Linked DNA regions of Homo sapiens. The protein of the gene in region 1 purifies or fractionates together with the protein of each later gene. This does not show direct contact. Each region holds a gene or a part of one and is shown on either strand. Other genes may lie near its edges.

Region 1 (5,369 bases):
TTTTTTTTGTTTTGGAGACAGAGTATCATTCTGTCACCAGGCAGTGCAGAGGCTTGATCTTGGCTCACGGCAACCTCTGCCTCCTAGGTTCAAGCAATTCTCCTGCCTCAGCCTCCTGAGTAACTGGGATTACAGGCACCAACCACCATGTCTGGCTAATTTTTTTGTTTGTTTTTTGTTTATTTTTGAAACGTTCAAGCGATTCTCCTGCCTCAGCCTCCCGAGTAGCTGGGATTATAGGCACCTGCCACTGCAGGAAGCTAATTTTTGTATTTTTAGTAGAGACAGGGTTTCACCTTCTTGGCCAGGCTGGTCTTGAACTCCTGACCTCATGATCCACCCGCCTCGGCCTCCCGAAGTGCTGGGATTACAGGCATGAGCCACCGCGCCCAGCCTTAATTTTTGTATTTTTAGTAGAAACAGGGTTTCACCATGTTGGCCAGACTGGTCTCGAACTCCTGACCTCAAGTGATCAGCCCGCCTCGACCTCCCAAAATGCTGGGTTTACCGATGAGAACCACTGCCACCATGCCCGCCTCTTAATAAGCAAGCTTCTAAGCCCCACTTCCCACCTAGTGAGTTATAGAGTCTCCAACTGTGTTAAACATTAGAAATGTTTCCAATGCTGGTCCAGGGTTTAGGACCACTAATACACCCCTAATTACAACCTATATATTTAGAAAGAATACAAATTAACTTACAATGATTGAAATAATTTATTTTTCCCCTTGTGGCTAATTTGTTTAAGTTAATCATAAAAGAAACCAAGTTTATATACTAAATTTTTATTATTAGAAATACTTTAAAATGTTAATATTTGAGAGAACATTAGTTTCTGGAAAATTTTTCCTTGTATAGATCGCCTCATACCCCAAAATGTTACATGTAATAAATAAGGTGGTACTCTCCTTATTTTTTAAAAAAATATATAAATGGAAAGAACTAAGAAAATTATTATGAGAATTTTGCCTCCTCTTACACAAATAATGATCTCATTCAAAATATTTACTGTATTCTCTAAAACTGAAGGACAATACATACCAAAATCTTCCTCAAAAGAAAGAACTCGGCTGGGCACAGTGGCTCATGCCTGTAATCCCAGCACTTTGGGAGGCCAAGGTGGGCAGATTGCCTCAGGTCAGGAGTTCGATACCAGTCTGGCCAACATGGTGAAACCCCGTCTCTACTAAAAATACAAAAAAATTAGCCAGGCGTGGTGGCATGTGCCTGTAATCCCAGCTACTCGGGAGGCTGAGGCAGAGGAATTGCTTGAACCAGGGAGGTGGAGGTTGCAGTGAGCCTCTGTCTCACCACTGCACTCCAGCCTGGGCGACAGAGCGAGCCTCTGTCTCAAAAAAAAAAAAACTCATTAACTCATTACAATCTGAATGGACAATAACAATATATAAGGATACAAAATGTCACTCCTGCAAAGAAACACTAGCATAACCCTGAGTCTGAAGCAACTGCTGCTGTGAAACGTACCAGCTGAAATTTTAAATAAGTAAACATCTGGCTGGGCGCGGTGGCTCACGCCTGTAATCCCAGCACTTTGGGAGGCCAAGGCGGGCGGATCATGAGGTCAGGAGATTGAGACCATCCTGGCTAACACGGTGAAACCCAGGCTCTACTAAAAACACAAAAAATTAGCCAGGTGTGGTGGCGGGCGCCTGTAGTCCCAGCTACTCGGGAGGCTGAGGCAGAAGAATGGCGTTAACGTGGGAGGCGGAGCTGGCAATGAGCTGAGATCGCGCCACTGCACTATAGCCTGGGTGACAGAGCAAGACTCCATCTCAAAAAAAAAAAAAAAGGAAACATTTTAGTACTACCCCAGAAACTGGAGACCTCAGTCTATATTTGAAGGACAACGAAGTTTCACACAAATCACTTTATTGTAATTTCCTTCAACTCTGTTCACAAACTCACTTACTAAACATAAAAATTCAAAGCACAAATGAATACATTTACAATTATCAGAAAATGTTTATTTTCTATCCTAGATGTCTTCCTAGTATTGAGACCCTACAAGACATGTCCACTTGGATGTCCCCCAGGCCTCTCAATTTCATGTTTCAAATTACCTATTTCAAGAAATAGCATCTATTCATCTACCCATTCACTCAAGTCAGAAAGCTCAAATATTCTGGACTCATTACTCACCACCCACATCTTCCCTAACACCTTACAACCATCCCCCTCATGTCCTTTCCCATTGCCCTGCTTCTGACCAATTTTTAGTCCTAAACTGCTACATTAAACTCCTTCAATTTAATGGCTCCAACCTGGTGCCCTGTCAACTCTCAACAGAGAGAATTATCATCACGATTCTTACGATTACCACTTTTCTTTTAAAGCCTTCAATAAAGATTTTTAAATTCTCAGCACAGCAATACCAGTTGCCTACTTACCTCTTCTAACCTCATAACCTGATACTAACATAATTTCTCAGTCTAGAATAATTATCTTTACTCCTTCACCTCCTTTACCTAATCACTCCTACCGACTTTCAAAGATTCACCTTCTCCAGCATGGAAAAGGTATCCTGCTTTGAACTTTCACTGTATGCTCTGCATACCTTTATATCGTATCACAAATTTTTTACTAAATGCAAGCCAGTTATGGGTTGGGGACACAAAGGTGAACAAAACACAGGCCTAGACTTTAAGCACAGTGGAGGCAGAACATAAAGTCAACTGCAATATAGTCTGATAACTTTTTTTAAGCTAACATCTCAGTGTTTATTATATGCCAGGCATCATGCTAAGGATTTGTCATGTACTATCTCATTTACTTCTCCAATAACCTTATGATTCCCACATTACAGAGAAGGAAAAATAGAAGTTCTGTTATTTGCCAAAGGTTCAGTTAAGCTTTAGAACTGAGATATGAATCCAAGTCTGACTCTAGATCCGAAAACTCTTAATCACCATGCCTCTATTTCAACTGCCACAGCATTTAATTCAGTTTCCCCAGTGGCCAGCACACAGCAAGTACAAAACGTGTATTTGTTAAGTGAATGAACTTGATTGTTGAAGTTCTAAACTAATGACTTAACAGCAATATTACCAATACTTAACATCAATGTTATGATACTATAACATCAATACATTATTGATATAATGACAATGTCAATACTACAACTTTTAAGTGGTAGTCTCCTGCTTCAAAGAGTTCAAAAACTAACAGTTAGTGTATTTGTTAGATACACTAACAAATGTGAAGAGATCAATATCCCAAGTGACTCACCATGTCAAAGTTGGTAATAGCAAAACACTGGAAATTAATGTCTATCAGAGGCAGACATGTTAAACAAATCAAAATATATCCCATATCATGATCTATCCATATGCTATGGTCTTAATGTGTTCTCCCAAAATTTGTATGTTGATACTTAATCACTAGTAATGGTATTAATAGGATTAATGACCTTATAAAAGAGGTGCAAGGGAGGTGCTTGACCCTTTTGCTCCTTCTACTATGTTAGGGCACAGCATTTGTTCCCTCCAAAGGAAGTAGCATTTAAGGTGCCATCTTGGAAGCAGAGACGCCAAACCTGCTGGCACTGTGATCTTAGACTTCCTAGCTTCCAGAATGGTAAGAAATAGATTTCTGTTCCTTATAAATTACCCAGTCTCAGGTATTTTGTTGGAGCAGCACAAACAGACTGAGATATCATGTAACGGTTATGCAGCTGTATAAAAGAATAAGAATGCTCTTTATGTACTGATACGGAATAACCCAAATTACACTCATTGGAAAAAAACATGTGGGAAATAATGTGTCTTAATGCTACCAAGGGTGGGGGCAGGAAGGATAAATGTTTTTAACTTCCATATGCAAAAAACACCTTTGGAAGAACATACAAGAAACTGTTAACACAGGATGCCGAGGACTAGGAAACTGGGTGACTTGGGGGTAGAAGTAAGAAGGAGATTTCACTGTATCTCTCTGTTTAACCTTTTGAATTTTGAACCAAGTGATTATATTACCTATTAAAAAAAACAACAACAAAAAAAACCAGGCTGGGTGCGGTGGCTTGCACCTGTAATCCCAGCACTTTAGGAAGCCAAGGCAGGCAGATCACGAGGTCAGGAGAGACCAGCCTGACCAACATGGTGAAACCCCGTCTCTACTAAAAATACAAAAATTAGCTAGGCGTGGTGGCATGTGCCTGTAATCCCAGCTACTTAGGAGGCTGAGGAAGGAGAATCACTTGAACCCAGGAGGCAGAGGTTGCAGTGAGCCACGATCATGCCACTAGCCTGGGTGACAGAGCAAGACTCCGTCTCAAAAAAACAAAACAACAACAAAAAACCTCCCAATAAAATTTTTAAAAAGCAACCAGGTGCGGTGGCTCACACCTGTAATCCCATCACTTTGGGAGGCCAAGGCAGGTGGATCACCTGAGGTCGAGAGTTCGAGACCAGCCTGACCAATGTGGAGAAACCCTGTCTCTACTAAAAATACAAAAATTGGCAGGGCACAGTGGCTCACGCCTGTAATCCCAGCACTTTGGGAGGCCAAGACGGGCGGATCATGAGGTCAGCAGATTGAGACCATCCTGGCTAACACAGTGAAACCCCGTCTCTACTAAAAATACAAAAATTAGCCGGGCGCGGTGGCGGGCGCCTGTAGTCCCAGCTATTCAGGAGGCTGAGGCAGGAGAATGGTGTGAACCCGGGAGGCAGACCTTCTTACAGCGAGCCGAGATCGCGCCACTGCACTCCAGCCTGGGCGACACAGAGAGACTCCATCTAAAAAAAAAAAAAAAAAAAAAAAAAAAAATTCAGCCGGGCATGGTGGCACATGCCTGTAATCCCAGCTACTCGGGAGGCTGAGGCAGGAGAATCACTTGAACCGGGGAGGCGGAGGCTGCGGTGGCTGAGACTGTGCCATTGCACTCCAGCCTGGGCAACAAGAGCGAAACTCCGTTTCAAAAAAAAAAAAAAAGTTTTAAAAAAGCAATTTCAGAAATGAAAACAGAAACATCATAACATCCATGACCACAGCTTTCTTGATTGCTATGGTGTCAAAGTGTCTGATACTTCCTGGAGTCAAATACTTGTTAAATCAATGAACAAAGTTTACAAAAGTTTCAAATTACCACTGCAGGAATATTTCAAATATATTTTATAAAGCACAGCAAAACTGGTGGAAAATAGTTTTGATTTTCCTGAAAACAGTCAATCAGAGCCAAAGATTTTCAGGGCCCCATCCCAGGCCTATCATTTATCAAAGTGTGAAACACTATGAGAATCTGTATTCTTTGAAAAACACCATGACGTTCATTTTATTTGAAATCTTATATAATAAAGAAGTTATAGGGATGGGGAGACTTTAGAAAGTTACCCAGAAAAAACACTTTAAAT
Region 2 (2,556 bases), on another chromosome or scaffold:
CTTCTTCTCATCCATGGAGACACCCCCAGGGCCCAGGGCCACCACCAGGAGCAAGCCCCCAATCACCGACATGGTCTGGAAGAAGTCGTATTTCAGGAAGTCATGCATGGGCTTGTAGACTGGAATGGTCCAGAAGGCGTTGAAATATACGTTGATGGCAAAGAGCCACACAACAAGAGTCAAAGCAGCCAGCTTGGTTTTAAAACCAATGGCCACTAAAATCATCAGAGCTGTGCCCACGATGTTCTGGACAATCTGCATAGGTTGAAACGTAAGAAATTCAAAATAAATGTGAGGAAAAGAGATGCTTTATAAACAAAAGTTCCAGCTGCTGCACGTCATGAAGTCTCTATCCATCAGGCTGATGTAGCTACTGCTGAGACGGCTGCTGGTGCAAGTAGGGAGATAAAAGCCAAAGGGAGGCAGGAGGCAATAAAGCACCAGCTTTGAAATGTGGAAGGTTTGGGGAAGACTGAAGTTCCCAACTAGTAACAGGCTGTGATTTACCAAGATGAATCTCTAATCCATAACTAAATTCCCAAGTGCTTCTTGGCCCACCCAGCCATCCAGGCCAGAAACATCCTCTCTCCTCTCTCCATGGCGCCAGGAGCTCTTCCTGGACACTACCCGGCCAGGGCTCTCAGTCAGCTCCGGAGGTGTGCTCTGGAAGCTCCTGGAGGCCTGCCCCTGACACCTGACACACAGGAATTACTTGAGAAAGATACGAACAGTGAGGAAAGAAAGAAGAGTAAGGGGAGCCCGGGTGGAGAGCCTTGGCCAACCAAGGGCCAAGCACACTCCACCAAGGTCAGAGGTTCTGGCCTTCATTTGCTGGAAAGAAGGCTTGACACACAAGAGATTGACGATGTTTTGGTCTGTTTTAATGGGATCAAAAAGTTTGCTCCGCCGAGCACGGTGGCTCACGCCTGTAATCCCAGCAATTTGGGAGGCTGAGACAGGCAGATCACGAGGGGTCAGGAGATCGAGACCATCCTGGCTAACACGGTGAAACCCTGTCTCTACTAAAAATACAAAAAATTAGCCAGGCGTGTTGGCAGGCGCCTGTAGTCCCAGCTGCTCGGGAGGCTGAGGCAGGAGAATGGCGTGAACCCGGGAGGCGGAACTTGCGGTGAGCCGAGATCACGCACTGCACTCCAGCCTGGGGGACAGAGCGAGACTCCGTCTCAAAAAAAAAAAAAAAAAAGTTTGCTCCATTTCAGCAGCTCCCCCAGGCTGTGGTTAATACCCAACCAGGGAGGGGTGAGCAGGGAGGGGGTGGGGGAGGGACAGCATTCACAGGAAACCAGACCGGTTCAGGCAAGTAGGAATACTTACAGAAAAGAAGCTGGCGTCAAAGTGAAGGAGGGTCATGAACATCAGAACCAGCAAGACCCTGCCTCCGAGCTGCATGTACTGTTTGGGGGAGCTCTCACGCATGGTGGGGACGCCCGCAAACATGCTCTTCCCTTCAGAACGGGATTCTGCTAGGAGCAGCAACAGGCCTCCTCCCAGGGCCAGGTTCCTGAGGAACAGATATGTGGGCTGGAAGCTAAGCCTCACCAGGATCTGGCCTGTCTGTGAGACCAGGTGCAGGGAGACCTTGCTGCCAGTATAAGAAGGCCCTTACTTCCCTTTCTCCAAACCCAGTGATCTGCCAAGCAGGACCAGGCAGGCATGCGCACAGGACCTCAGACTCGAGTTACACCCATGTAAAACCTTACATAGCTCAGGAGACAGAGGTATCTTTACAACTCGACAGTGACAGGCTACCTGAACACACACACAACCGAGTCCTAGTCACAGCTTCAGTGTTGACCAGCTGGGTCCCCGTGGTCAGGTCTGTCCTCCACTCAGACCCGGAGTCCCCACACCCGTGAAATAAGGGTCAGAAGAGACGGCTTCAGTCTCTACTATTCTAGGGGCTCTGCAACATCCTCTTCAGAACCTGTTTCTAAGAGGCACAATTTAGACAGGGGGGTCCAATCTTTTGGCTTCCCTGGGCTACCCTGGAAGAACTGTCTTGGCCACACATAAAATACACTAATGCTAATGATAGGTGATGAGCTAAAAAATAAAACTTAAAAATCACAAAAAAAACTCTCAATGTTTTAAGAAAGTTTTTGAGTTTGTGTTGGGCCATGTTCACCCCGTGGACCACAGGCTGGACAAGCTTGGTTTAGACCCAGAGAAGTCTACTCAAACCAATAGTTAACTGAGTTTAGAAATACAGATTGAGTATCCCTAACCTGAAATGCTTAGGACCCAAAGTGTTTCAGATTTTGGTATATTTGCATTATATACTTATTGGCTGAGCATCCCAAATCTGAAAATCCAAAACCTGAAATGCTCCAATGAGCACTTCCTTTGAGCGTCATGTTGGTGCCCAAGATTTTTCCCATTTTGGAGCATTTCAGACTTTGGATTTGCAATGCTCAACCTGTAGAAGGAGCGTATACTAAAACCAACCAGAATGCACATACCTCATCAAAAACTTCAAGTCCCATAAAATGCTGTAGGCAATCGTCTGAGGGGAAAGAAGAGAGAGATACTTGAGTC

Evidence for each region. Proteins that work in one complex are often made in the same cells at the same time.
Region 2: the proteins of SEPTIN7 (region 1) and SURF4 fractionate together in Homo sapiens (co-fractionation; one large-scale study listed by BioGRID). This does not show direct contact.

Annotation. Positions count from the first base shown.
Region 1 is NC_000007.14:35,806,768-35,812,136, reverse strand, and holds part of SEPTIN7 (septin-7), read right to left. Parts: intron 1-5,369.
Region 2 is NC_000009.12:133,363,505-133,366,060, forward strand, and holds part of SURF4 (surfeit locus protein 4), read right to left. Parts: intron 2,525-2,556; coding exon 2,481-2,524; intron 1,523-2,480; coding exon 1,336-1,522; intron 256-1,335; coding exon 1-255. UniProt on the Homo sapiens protein: Endoplasmic reticulum cargo receptor that mediates the export of lipoproteins by recruiting cargos into COPII vesicles to facilitate their secretion.